Regions from separate parts of the Homo sapiens genome. Here region 1 is linked to region 2. Evidence: fine-mapped expression QTL. Tissue or cell type: prefrontal cortex. Region 2 holds a variant in brackets; the other region holds the start of a gene. All regions are shown on one strand. Distances are from middle to middle.

What was found. PIP is the estimated chance that this variant, and not a neighbour inherited with it, causes the effect.
Region 1: it holds the start of FAM149A, and the variant in region 2 is fine-mapped to the expression of FAM149A in prefrontal cortex (CommonMind, PIP 0.95).

Annotation. Positions count from the first base shown.
Region 1 is chr4:186,100,329-186,107,591 of GRCh38, forward strand. FAM149A (family with sequence similarity 149 member A) reads left to right here and starts at 4,376. Exons shown (of 14, transcript NM_001395294.1): 1 at 4,376-5,314. The coding sequence starts at 4,749. RefSeq lists a silencer at 4,296-4,355.
Region 2 is chr4:186,148,931-186,156,193 of GRCh38, forward strand. It overlaps FAM149A (family with sequence similarity 149 member A), which reads left to right. Exons shown (of 14, transcript NM_001395294.1): 2 at 243-353; 3 at 636-774; 4 at 2,973-3,115; 5 at 4,715-4,840; 6 at 5,538-5,708; 7 at 7,070-7,260. Among named protein-coding and RNA genes, the nearest start is that of FLJ38576, 39 kb to the right of the region's middle. RefSeq lists an enhancer at 1-989 and a silencer at 1,008-1,203. The variant G/C (reference allele first, on the strand shown) is at 3,986.

The sequences.
Region 1 (7,263 bases), 49 kb before region 2:
CTCTTGTTGCCTAGGTTGGAGTGCAATGGCGTGATCTCCGCTCACTGCAACCTCCGCCTCCCAGGTTCAAGCAATTCTCTGGCCTCAGCCTCCCAAGTAGCTGGGATTACTGGCATGTGCCACCACGCCCTGCTAATTTTGTATTTTTAGTAGAGACAGGGTTTCTACATGTTGGTCAGGCTGGTCTTCAACTCCCAACCTCAGGCAATCCGCCCGCCTCGGCCTCCCGAAGTGCTGAGATTACAGGCATGAGCCATCACGCCTGGCCTTACCCTACATTTCTAATTGTCTATATAAAATCATTAGAAAGAAAGATTAACTATTTACTGTATTTACTTTCATTGCCTGATCCTGCTTGAGCCAGACCACATCACCTGAGGCCCATGTTCTAAGAATGACATGCTGCTGGTAATTAACAGAGAAGCCTGGCCGCATCTACAAAAGGCTGTTGATGGATGAACAATGGGTACAAAGGACTGGACAAGTTGCTAAGAATGGCTTATCACGTTTGCAATTATGGGTCATTTTCAAAGGAAGGCCCTCCAAAGAAAAGGACCCACTATTCTTTCAGTGTGCCTTCTTCATGGGGCTGGCTGGTCAGAATGCTACACCTACTACCGTAACCAAGGATGATACTTCTTCCCCACCACCACCATCTCCTTTTTATGATTCTTGCATTCTCCCTATAGATTTAAAACAATTACGATGACCATTTCAATTTGTAGCCAGTTTTTTAGAGTGAATTTACCCACTAAAGACTTTCATAGAGGTACAAGCAAGATACTATGATCTTGAAGTACCCCAAAATTAATTAATACCCCAATCATGGATCTTTCCTAGGATTGCCATAACAAAGTGCTGGGTGGCTTAAAACAACAGAATTTTTTTTTTTCTCACAGTTCTGGAAATGGGAAGTCCTCACTGAGGTGTTTGTGGGGCCCTGTAGGGGAGGAGTCATCCCTGCCTCTTCTTAGCGTCTGGTAGTGGCCATCAGCCTGGAGCACCCTTCGGCTTGCAGCTGCTTCACTCCAGCCTCTGCCTCTGTCATCCTGTGGTGCTCCCCCTGTGTGTCTGTGCCCACATCTCCCTCTTCTTAAGAGTATACGCATCGTACTGGACAAGGACCCATCCTACTGACCTCAGCTTAACTTGATTACATCTGTGAAGATCCTATTTCCAAATAAGATCACATTCACAAGAACTGGGGGTGGGACTTCAACACATCTTCTGGGGGCACACAACTCAAATGTGCCCACAGCTGGGACACATGCAGACACACCTTAGAGACAGAATGCTTTCAAGGCCAGGATCTGGAAGGGTATGCAGCTGTTCTCTAGCTTTATTTATTATTATTATTATTATTATTATTATTATTATTATTATTATTATTTGAGACGGAGTTTCGCTCTTCTTGCCCAGGCTGGAGTGCAATGGCACGATCTTGACTCACCGCAACATCCGCTTCCTGGGTCCAAGCGATTCCCCTGCCTCAGCCTCCCAAGTAGCTGGGATTACAGGGACCCGGCACCACACCCAGCTAATTTTTGTATTTGTAGTAGAGATGGGGTTTCTCCATGTTGGTCAGGCGGGTCTTGACCTCCCGACTTCAAGTGATCTGCCTGCCTCAGCCTCCCAAAGTGCTTGTCCATAGAAGAGAAGTGGTTATTGAGGGAAACATGGAAAGATCTAGAACCAGAGAGCCCAAGACAGCGGCATGAATGCACCACTGTTCAGGAACAGTTGCTCCTGAAGGAGAAGGGTGCTGGACTCTAATGGTTAATGCCCCCTGTATGTGAACCATATGATTCCTTCCCTTTGCTTTGATTCCACACTCACCTAACAACCATTGGAATTAATTTGGTCCTAAAGGGATTCCTCTTATGGGGAAAGAGCAGAGGATGGAACACTGCATCAGTGCTTTTTTTTTTTTTTTTTTTTTGAGACGGAGTCTCGCATTGTCACCCAGGCTGGAGTGCAGTGGCGAGATCTTGGCTCACTGCAAGCTCCACCTCCCAGGTTCACGCCATTCTCCTGCCTCAGCCTCCCGAGTAGCTGGGACTACAGGCGCCCACCACCACACCCGGCTAATTTTTTGTATTTTTAGTAGAGACAGGGTTTCACCGTGTTAGCCAGGATAGTCTCGATCTCCTGACCTCCTCCGCCCGCTCGGCCTCCCAAAGTGCTGGGATTACAGGCGTGAGCCACCGCACCCGGCCGCATCAGTGCTTTGTGAGTCAGATTAGTGGGGCTCCACACAGAGACACTGGTCAGCTGTGAAGGTGCTGGGCCCATCAGATTTCTGAGTCTGAAATATCAGGAATCCTGAGTTCTGGCAGCAAACAAGTGCTACCCCCAAGGATCTAGGTGAGCTGACTCGAACTTTGCTCCACAATGGCCCTCCCTTGCTGTTATTTCAAGTTCCATATGTTCAGATTCAATGGAGCGACTAGCCCCTTACTCACTGAAAGCACATACTCTAGAAATAACTTCTATTTGCATTGAAAGTGACCTGATATATTAAGGATTTAATTACTCCATGAATCAGAATAAGATCCTTGTAAGATGAACAAAATCTGTGGGAAACTGCTTTGCAGTCCTGAATGAGTGCTACATGAAAACAGTCCAGTGTTCGGAGGGAACGTCCAGACTTCTGAGGCTACCTGGTGAGTGCTGCAGAAGGGGAACAAGGGAGCACGAGAAAAGTTCATGGTTCAACAGCAGCCTGTTCCTGGTGTCTCTGCGTTGTGACGGAGTTGGCACTGCTTCCCTGGTTTGCCCCCAACCCTCTCCCTCTTGTTACCATTGCTGCTCTCAGAGGTGTCTGTTCTTAATTCCCTTTTTCTCTCATTTTGATTCTTCGCTGTGTGCTGGTGCTTCACACGCTGACGACTGCGTGCTCTCGCCTCTCCGAACATCCAAGGGCCTTTAAAATCTCACCCTAGTCACCCATGTCTCTTACTTCCCTTAGGCACACAAATGCTCTGCTGTCCCCAAGCGAATGTTGACCACGATGGCTGCCATCACCTGTGCTTGTCTTCCAGGGCACTCACGGGACACTCAGCATATGACGTGAAGCAGATTATTCCATGCTCTGGGAAGAGAACCGCTCTTTCTTTGCATGTCTGTGCTTAATGCAATCTTGAAGCAGACAAGTGCCCAGTACATGTTGGTGGCAGTTAGATGTAGAAAAGGGATCATGACAGAAGACTTGTTAACTGCCTCCAAATAACGCAAAACTTAGCATTACCTGGAAGTTTACCGTGGCTCAGACTCCAGTTTGATAACTTACAAAAGATTCAAGTATATAAGCATGAATGTCAGTTTATTCACTGCCAGACTTAATTCATCTCTTTTCCCTACCCCACATCAGGAAATGTATCTCCTGAGATCCTCTCCTGAATATTAATGGACAAACTCCATCAATATCTCATTACTATTTTTTTGACACAGGGTCTCACTCTACTGCCCAGGCTGGAATGCAGTGGTGCGATCACGGCTCACTCCAGGCCCAAGCGATCACCTCAGCCTCCCGAGTACCTGGGACTACAGGCATGCGCCACCAGGCCCGGCATTTTTTTTTTTTTTAAATATTTGTAGAGATGGGGTCTCCCTATGTTGTTGCCCAGGCTGGCCTGGAACTCCTGGGCTCAAGCCATCCTCCCACCTCCCAATCCCGGTGCTGGGATTACAGGTATGAGCCACCGAGCCTGGCTGCAGTATCTTATTTTTTAACTCTGTTCAACACTGACCCCACACCCCTTTAGATGCTCGCACCTATACGCTCTACCTTTCACACATATTTTTCAGATTAAGCAAAATACAATTTATTCCACTGAATAGAAAACGTTGCCTTCCATATCTGTCTTTGAATTTGTAGTCGTTCCGATTATAATTTGAGTTCTCAAACATTTGAATTACACAGTCTCTTGGTTCACTCCGACAGGTGTTTAAACAGGTGTGCGTAGGTCTTTCTACTTCAGCTCTCAGAGCCGGTCTTGTTTGCAGGTTAGTGGGTGGCGCACCTCGCGGTTGCTCCCACCCCACCCTTAGTAACAGGGTTTGAGTAGGACCCTGGGGTGGGGGAGTGGATGCTGCTGTTTCAAGCTCGTTCGCCCAAATACATCTTTCTACCCACCTTCCCTATCGTCAGAGAGGTGGCCTGACCCCAGCACGTGCAAGCTTGTCAGGCTGGGTAAGTTCCAGAACCTTCTGGAGCCAGGATTCTCTTTCCCAGCCCTGGGCCCTGAGCTCGGCGGATGGGATCTGCGAGGCTCGGGGCGCAGGGGAAATGGGGGCGTGTTCCTTTAAGGCGGAACCAGGCGGGGAGTGGGACGTCCCCCGCGGGCACAGCCCGAGCCGCACCTGGGGCCCAATTAGCCTGGAGCGCGGCCGGGTGTGTTGAACGTAGCAACCGCGGGCGGCGGGCGGCGGGCGGCGGGCGTCTGGGGCGGGCGGCGGCCGCGCTTCCCGGGGCTCCTGGCCCTTCGGCCCTCGGGGGTCTCACGGCGCTGGGACGAGGCGGGGCTGCTCTCCGCAGCCGGGGCGCTCGGCGGACGGACCCGGGCCGGGGAAGGGCGACCCCAGCGGCGCGGAGCTGAGCGTCCTCGGGGAGGAGAGGGAGCCAGGGGCCTCCGGGGCTCCGGGTGCGGGGACCTCAGGCTCCTCGCCCCGGCCCGGGCCGCCTCGGCCGGATCTCCGCGGTCTGAACTCTCGGGCGGCGGCGAGGACGGCGTGTCCACTGTCGAGGCATGAAGGCTGCTGTGCTGGACCTTGGGTCTCTCTTGGCCAAACTCTTCGAGACCTCGACGGCGCCCCCCGCAGGCCCCTCCTCCAGACCCTCGGGAGGTGCTGCCGCTGCAGGGTCGGGGGGCTCCAGGGCGGGCACCCCGTTGGGTACCGCCCCGACCCTCCTCCGCGCCCTGGCTCCGGACTCCCCCTCCGCCTCGCGGCGGTCGCCCGCCCCGCTGCTCTCCTCCCCCTACTCCCGGGGCTCCGCCGCCAGCCGCGCCGCGGGAGCAGTGGGGACCCTGCTCTCTTGGCCCAGTAGCCCTAGAGCGGGTAAAGCCCCGCCCCAGCCCCCCACTCCCTCCGGCGGGGGCTGCTCCCCTGCTCGCCTGGTGGTCCCAGCGCGGCCGCCCTCGGGCCCCGGCGGGGTCTGGGCCGCGCTCCCCAGGAACCCGCTCCAGCCTGGCCCCGGAGAGCGAGAGCTCGGCGCCTGCGTGGCCCCCGGGGCTGGCCCCAGAACCCTGTTCCTTACGCTGCCTGACATCGGCGAGGAGGGGGCCTCGGACGGCGACTCCGGGGATGGCGAAGCGTGAGTAGCAGCGTGGTCCGGGCGCGTGTACCTTTTGCCGGGACCCCCGACCCCTCCGCCTGCCGCACTCACCTTCGCAGGTGCACTTCAGGAAATGAAATATTTGTAGTAACTTTCATAACCCCCTGGGCACCCTCCTTGCACGTTTCCTGGGTTTTTACTCCTTGGCTTTGCGGGCTTTCAGACATAAGCTGTGACATGCTTTGTCCAGCTTTCTCAGAGTGAATCCTAAGGGGCCTTGAAGGAAGGGACAGAATTTTGTTTCTCTTCTACCAGAAGCATTGCTACTTAGAGTGTTTGTTTGGTTTTCTTAAGGACTTTTTGAAGTCCCTTTCTTTGTCTCAGAATATAGCAGGTGTGCAGGGAAACCGAATACACACGTCTGCAGCAAGTGTTTTAAGAAGTGGTGAGACCTGGTGCTTTCCTAATGTCTAAGGACCAGTCCCTAGTCTTATCCTAAGTGGGATGGGTCTCCTTTGTGTGACATCTAGTTAATTTACATATGCATGACATCATCTGACACAAATGGAGTTGTAATGGCCAGGACACGTCTGATTATTACCCTAGAGCTCCTGAGAGCTTTCCACAGTGCCCTGAGTCACTGCAGAAACGTTGACTTCATGGGAACATTTTCACTGGGAATCGGAGGCCGATTCCCTCAACACACACACACCCACACAACACCCCTTTCACTTCCAAGAGTCGTGATAAAAACATTGCTCTTTTAAAATGTGTTTTAGAACTAGGATGAATTTTAATTTTTAGAGTGGAGCATATCGTTAGCTATTCTTGAGTGGGTAAATTTTCATCCTGAATGCTGCAAAGAAATAGTGAAATGGTCAAAGACAGATGAGCCAATTCACAGACTGAGGTTTCTGCATTGTAATCTAGTGAGGCCATTCCCTACTCCCTCCAAAAAATCCTGAGTAATTTTTGCATTCATACTGATCCTGACTCACTCACAATTTAAATAATTACAGTTTCACAAAATTGAATGATATTCATGTCAATATGAAAACAAGCGGCCGGGCACGGTGGCTCACGCCTGTAATCCCAGCACTTTGGGAGGCCGAGGCGGGCGGATCATGAGGTCAGGAGATCGAGACCATCCTGGCTAACACGATGAAACCCCGTCTCTACTAAAAATACAAAAAATTAGCCGGGCGTGGTGGTACGTGCCTGTAGTCCCAGCTACTCGGAAGGCTGAGGCAAGAGGATGATGGCGTGAACCCGGGAGGCGGAGCTTGCAGTGAGCCAAGATCGCACCATTGCGCTCCAACCTGGGCGACAGAGAGAGAGACTCCGTCTCAAAAAAACAACAACAAAAAAGAAAATAAGCAGTTAAGCAAAAAGTTGTTCCCACTCATTAAAAAATACTATATTATGACATATGTTTATCAACTGATAGTTTTCCCTATCAGTTAATTGCTTTTGGAAAACTCACTGGAATACATATGCCTGAGGAATTAGATCTTTGTTATTGGCAACTGGTCCTTAACATTTATGCAATTAATGTTTTATGAGCAAACAGATCTACACACTGACCTTAAACTCTAGTCTTAGTGCTTTTAACAAATAGGCACTGAAATATGCAGCATGGCCAGTGAAACTGGTGTTAGTTTCAATTCTTGAACATATTAGCTCATGTTTATATTGTGCAAATATTTGGAATAGATACTTTTTGAATAACACTGCATTTGGCATTATTTACATAAGAGATTATTCTGAATTAACAAATGCATTCAATTTTATGGACAGTGAAGAAATTGAATTTTTAAATTATTATTACTTTTTGAGATGAGGTCTCCTTCTGTCACCCAGGTTGGAGTGCAGTGGTATGATCACTGTTCATTGCAGCCTCAACCTCCCAGGCTCAAGCGATCTGATTCTCCCGTCTCAGACTCTCGAGTAGCTGGGACTACAGGTGTGAGCTACTATGCCTGGCCAAT
Region 2 (7,263 bases):
TAATGGCAACCTTGATTTTAAGAAAAAGAAAAATGATGACATCCTAAGTCTCAGTTTCATCAGGATGGGGTGTGTGTGTGTGTGTGTGTGTGTGTGTGTGTGCGCTCATGCACAGGTGGGTTTGGAGGGATGTGGCAGAACGAGAGGAGCAACTTTGTATAAAAGAGAAATTTTAAAAGTCTTAATGAATAAAACTATATTATTACATTAGGGAGACTCGTCATGTTTTATTTTATTTCCAGAAGAGGACTGTCAGAAGGACGTAGAAGGCACGGTTTTACTGTGAGGAGCAAAGATTCTTTACCTACGCATTTTACAAGAAATGTGCAGAAAGCCATTGATAAATATACCTGGTAAGAATTCACCTTGCTTCAGATTACAAAATCACAAAATGCCCGTAACAAATGTGGGAAGGAAGTTAGTGACTGGCCATGAATTTCTAAAAGTAAGATGCAGTTTTATTTTTAACCTAGTGTAAACATCACACTGTAAAAATATTTCAAAATTAGTATACTGTGAAATTAATAAATATATTTAATGAAAGAAAGAGGAAGCAGGCTCAGAAAAGTGAAGCCACTTAGCCATCCAAGCCCTTCCAGCAAATGTGATTTCTTTGCTCATGTTCATTCCTGCAGCAAATCCTTGTCATCCTTTTCCTCCAGCGGAAGCCATACACCCACGGGAGCCCACACCTCTTGGTCTGGGTCGGCCACACAGAGCTCTACCACCGGCTCATCCACGGAGAGGGGCTCCGTTTATTCCTGGAGAGATGACGTATGTCTCAGAATATTTTGGATAATCTTGTAATTACAGTTTATAGTGAAGAGTTGCTTCCTTATATTCAAAATTATTTTTACCAATTATAAAAGCATGACCTATTGCATACATACATGTACATACATGTAAAAGCATGTACATGTTACATGTGAAAATAATAGATCACGAACCGTGGAGGAAAACAGAACTCCCTCGTGACCTTCTGGCCCCGTCTTAGCTGCCCGCAGTTTTCTTGTTTCCACCCTGCAGCCGGCTCTCCGGGTGTGTGCTCCTTGTGACTTCTTGGATGGTATCCATGGCCGGAAATTCAGGACTTGAATAAGAAAGAAATGCTGGAAAAGTAAAAGCTGTGGCAGCCACTGTGATTAGAGAACTCCCCGCCAGTATTCCCAGTCGGATATTTCACCTTCACCCCCTACCGCTGGGGGCGCTGTTGCCTCTGAACTGCTTTTGTCTGTGTGAGCCTGGGATTCTGGCTGGGCGAGCTCTGCCTCCACTGCTCCAGCTTGCTCAGGAGCTCACTGGCTCCAGTCTCCTCCCTCCCCCTCCCTCCAAGGGTCTCCGTGGATCCCAGGACACAGCCCTCCTTTTTAAGGCCCACCTGGCTGCAGCACCTTGGGTGTTCTGTTTTACCTCGTTTATGCTGGGTGTTTTGTTGTTGTTGTTGTTGTTTTTTGCTTGCTTGCTTTCTCTCTCTCTCTGTCTCTTTTTTTTTTTTTTTTTTTTTTTTGAGACGGAGTCTCGCTCTGTCGCCCAGGCTGGAGTGCAGGGGCGCGATCTCGGCTCACTGCAAGCTCCGCCTCCCGGGTTCACGCCATTCTCCTGCCTCAGCCTCCCGAGTAGCTGGGACCACAGGCGCCCACCACCACGCCCGGCTAATTTTTTGTATTTTTAATAGAGACGGGGTTTCACCGTGTTAGCCAGGATGGTCTCGATCTCCTGACCTCGTGATCCGCCCGTCTCGGCCTCCCAAAGTGCTGGGATTACAGGCGTGAGCCACCGCGTCCGGCCTTTTCTCTCTTTTTTTTTTTTAAGACAGAGTCTTGCTCTGTCACTCAAGCTGAGGTGCAGTGGTGCCATGTCGGCTCACTGCAACCTCCGCCTACCAGGTTCAAGCAATACTCCTGTCTCAGCCTCCCGAGTAGCTGGGATTACAAGTGTGCACCGCCATGCCCAGTTAATTTTTGTATTTTTAGTAGAGACGGTGTTTCACCATGTTGGCCAGGCTGGTTTCGAACTCCTGACGTTGTGATCCGCCTGCCTGGGCCTCCCATGGCATGAGCCACTGCGCCCAGCCTCTTTGCTTTCTTTAAAAGTGGTTCCCCACTCCCACTGCACATGGGAATCCGCTTCTGTCCGCAGCTGTGCAGCTGTGATTCTCAGGGGAGCCGGCAGGGCAGGTGCACCGAGGGGGTCTGAAAGGGACTCAGCTCAGCACTGCTAGGAGGACCTTTCACGCACGCAGCTCCCTTACTTAGGGGCAGCTGCCTCCTTCCTCTCCCTTACGCCCACTCACCACCATCCCTCAAGCCCGCCTTCCTTGGTAGAAGGCTGAGCACCACTGCTTTACTCTGTCCAAATTCTAGGATTCTTTTAGTACAACGTTTAATGGAATTACCAGGGAAATTCGTATAACTTCCATTAATACTCAGGCCTCACCCTAATAACCACACTTCTTAGGATAACTAAGGATTTTTTTTTCCAGTTCATTGATTTAAGGAGATTAATGGCCTTTTCTACAAAAGTAATTTTCTTTTCTGTGGTATCACCAGAAGAAAAAAAAATCTTGTATTTTGCAGGTGTGCTTAGGTGTGTCAGGCACAGCTCTGTGAGGAGCTGCCTGTGTTTGCAGACATACAGATGTGGACGTGTCTGTGTGTCTACGCTGATGTCTGTGGCAGTATGAACACGTCCATCTATACCTCTATCTATGCAAATTCTTGAGTCTCATAACTTCCGTGGCAGAAGTTTTCTCTATTTAACAGTAAAAGAATCCGAGGCTCAGAATGAGATGGCATTTCTCAGAAAGGTAACAGCTAGAGCACAGGTGTGTCTGACTGCAAAGCCACCATCTTTTTACCAAGTGATGCACCCTCCTACATAGTGGGTGACAGTAAATGTATAAGTAGCGTTGATCCAGAAGCCCGCAGTTCTGTAACTTGCAGTGTTGTAACCAAGTGTGCATTTCTGTTTAGGAATTTGACGAAGCCAGTTCACAGTCAGTGCAGCGGTTACTCTGGGAGGTGGAGGAAATGTTATTTGAAGGGAAAGTGAACCCTCAGACCCAGAGTCTGCTGGCCGAATGCGGGGAGTGGACAAGAAGATCCCTCCATTTGAGGTGGGACCTTGGTGGTGGAAGTTCTCTGGGGTGGGTTTTCCAAGCACCCACCCCTGACCTGCCTCGATACATTCAGTACATTTGGTGTGAAAGTGCCTGCCCAGTCAGAATATGGATGCAGAGCGCAGTCCTTCACTGAGAGATCACTTTCCTCTTACGGCGTCTGAGGAAATACTGAGACATTCCAGTACTCAAGCGCCTTTTAATTTGTGAGAAGCAAATTCAGGCCATCCTGAGAAGGGCATGACACATATACGAATGCAAGAATGGTGGAGGCCACCTCTTACCTTCACATTCACTGTGTGTGAGCAGCACATGTCTGTCTTCATCACAGAACACAGCGAGGGTGGGCAGAGATGATTTGCTGAACGGCTGGATAGATGGGTCTTCCCATCTCACCCATTCCTTATGTAGGGAGGAGCATGTGTTACTTTTCATATCAAAGATGGAGAATATGGATTGGGTATGAAGGCAAGCTTTTCTTTTCTTTTTGCTTTTTTTTTTTTTTTTTTTTTTTGAGATGGAGTCTTGCTCTGTCGCCCAGGCTGGAGTGCAGTGGCGCGATCTCAGCTCACTGCAATCTCAGCCTCCTTGGTTCACGCCATCCTCCTGCCTCAGCCTCCCGAGTAGCTGGGACTACAGGCACCTGCCACCACGCCCGGCTAATTTTTTTTATTTTTAGTAGAGACGGGGTTTCACCGTGTTAGCCAGGATGGTCTTGATCTCCTGAACTCGTGATCCGCCCGCCTCAGCCTCCCAAAGTGCTGGGATTACAGGCATGAGCCACCGCGCCCGGCCAAAGGCAAGCTTATCTTTCAGTCACTCAGCCAACGTACTGGGGGACAGTTTATCAAAGTTACCTGAGTTCCT[G/C]TGGATTCTGTCTGGGGAGAATGAATCAGAACACTCATGTAAATGTGGCTGGATTTCCTGGTTACATTCACTAGGTAACTTTTACAGAAATCTTGACCAACTAGGGTTGTTTTTTTTTTTCTTTTCAACCCTTAATAAGCCACCTGCCCTAAAGAGTATGATATGTCCACTAGATACTAGTTGTGGATACTCACTTTTCTGGGGATGATCACTCACCAGAAATTCGGGAGCTCACACTTATTCTTGTCACTGCTGTCTTACATCATTGATAGAAATGGAGGGAAGGTGGGAAAAGATTGTCAGGTACATAAGCCAAGTGTGCATATTTATATATTTGTATTCTTGTTATGTTTGTGTTTAACTGTGTATTAGTTAATATGTATGGAGGGCTTCTTTGTGCCCAGTGTTGCCTTAGACACCTGAGTCTGTCATATATGATCTCTAAGCCATTCATCAGCCCTGCAAGGTAACCATTATTATCCTGTTTTGCAAATGAAAGACAAACAAATGAAATTAGCCTGAGAACCTTGCCTGAGACTGAGTCAGTGGAAGAACAGTCTGGCCTAAACTCTCAAAGTCACACTTCTGTGATGCGTGATGCTTCCCACGTTCCCATACACATCTTATCATACACATGCCTTCAAAATCATTGTCTCCTACTTTTAAAATCTCCAAACATTTTCCCTTTGTCTGATCAAAAATGTCAGTAGCTTCTCTTTGACCTCGCAGAGTATTAGGAAGACAGCTGATCCTGCCCACTGACAAAGGCGTCCAGCATTTCCAGGGCAGCACTCCTGCCTCCGCAGTCCACAGACCCCCGCTCAGTGCCTGCGGACACAGCAGCAACATCAGAGAGTATGTTCAGATAAGTGACTCTCAAAAAGTATTGTTAGCTGTATTTTAGTTATACTTTTTCATGTTTATCTCATCTATAAGCCTTGGCTCCACCCATTTTGGAAATTTAGATTCTGATGAAGGGCAGGTACAGAGAACAATTTTTATAAGAAGCTTTTGATTCTGAATTGATGATAGGTGTATATGTGTGTATATAGAGAGATGTGTAATATATATATGGAACACACATGCACACACATGGTAGTTACCTTCCATGTTTGTTCCAAAGGCGCTGTGAAAGGTGGACTGGGTGCAGGATGGAAACCGCCTCACTGTGATGGATTATAAGCCTCCAGGCGGTGGCAGCAGGAGAAATGAAGCTCTGTCCTGTCGTTTCTGTTCACTAGCAGATTTTGATGACTCTATGCCATTCACACATATTTGGTGTGCCGTGACACAATGCAGTCCTTTCACTGCAACCAAAGAGGGTACAAACTCATAGAATAATTTAGGCTTTTAAGAAGCCCTTAAAATGTTTAATGATGCCTGTATTAAAGTGTTTTTAAGGACGTGAGTTTTGTCCAATGTAATATTCAACCGTTTTGGGAGGGGGGGATTCTGTACTTTACAGATAATTGAAAGATCCGCCATGATCGTTTAAGCATTGCGTTCTTGGTGTTCTATAAACTCCCATGTAGAATCTGTTTTTTTCCCATAGGTTGTGCATTTCTGGCTCTCAAATAGTCCCAGCAGCACTCTCAGCCTCTGCCCTGCCAGGCCCTGATGACACAGGGGTTGCTGACCTAACGGCACGTTCATCCCTGGAAGAAGAGGTTTACCATGTGGATGGAAAGATTGAGGAGTATTTCGCTTTTGACAGAAAAGAGGAGTAAATAGAATCTTATTTGACATTGACCTCATAAAATAATATTAATTTATTTGACATTTATTGTTATCGTATGCTCATTAAGTGTTTTGTGTATTTTTTACTCACCCAAAAGATTTCTGTTCTTTTGAGAGTAATGTACTCCCCAGAGCTTTTGGATTCCTAGCCAGCGGTGCACGTGCGGGAGCAGCGAAGAGGGTGTTCAGTGCCCTTGTAAAAGCAGACAAGGCTCCTCGCAGCCCTGGTCCTGGGGGCTCCAGGTTCCCCAGCCCTGGCTGCCCAAAAGGGCCTAAGGGGAGTTCCTGCCTCTGTACTAAATTCGTATTTTGTTCTTTTTTTTTTTTTGAGACGGAGTCTCGCTCTGTCGCCCAGGCTAGAGTGCAGCCGTGCGAGCTCGGCTGACTGCAAACTCCGCCTCCCGGGTTCACGCCATTCTCCTCCCTCAGCCTCCCGAGTAGCTGGAACTGCAGGCGCCCACCACCACGCCCGGATAATTTTTTGAATTTTTTTTTAGTAGAGACGGGGTTTCACCGTGTTAGCCAGGATGGTGTCGATCTCCTGACCTCGTGATCCTTCTGCCTCGGCCTCCCAAAGTGCTGGGATTACAGGCGTGAGCCACTGTGCCCAGCCTTGTATTTTGTTCTTAATCAAAAACTACAACTATTACATGATAAAACTTTGCCCCGTGATTGAAAATTGGCACATTAAAAAGTAACACTGATAAAACAAGTCTTAACACATTTGAGAAGACTGAAATCAAGCATCTTTTCTGATCTCAGTGGTACAAAACTGAAAGTCAATAACAGGAAGAAAACTAGAAAACTCACAAATATGTGTAAACTAAACAACCTGCTCCTCAACAACCAGGCAGTAGGTCAAAGAAGAAACCTAAAGGGAAATCAAAAAATATAATGAGACAAATTAAAATGGAAACACAACATATTAAAACCAAACTTATGGGGTACAGTAGAAGCAGCTCTAAAAGGGAAGCCTATGGCAATAAATGCCTACATTGAGAAAAAAGACATATCTGAAATAAACAACCTAACTTTATACTTGAAGGAATGAGAAAAAGAACAAACTAAGCCCAAACTTAGTAGAAGGAAGGAAATAACAAAGCTCAGAGCCGAAATAAATGAAGAGACTAGAAAAAAAAAGAAAGATCAATGAAACCAGGAGTTGGTTTCTTGTTTTTATTCATGTGTAATGGAAAAAAATTATATATGTTAAAAAAGAACGATGCTGTTTAACAAAGAATGTTTATTAATATATGTATACATGTACATACGTGAATGTGTGTAGATAGAATTATTTTAACTCTAAGCATTGATCTTTTAGTAATTGGAGTGGGTTTTTATTCTTAGTGATGATGAATGTCTTGAACAAAAACCAGCTCAGCCCGGTAGGAAATGGCGCAAACTCGGACTTCCTCCTGTTTCCCCGCGTGACTGTGTCAAAGATGCCGTGGCAGCAGAAGTGTTTGATCACGTCTGGACAAATATGGTAGAACTTTTGGAAGAGCTGATTAGAAAACACTGGGAAACTACACTCACAGGTA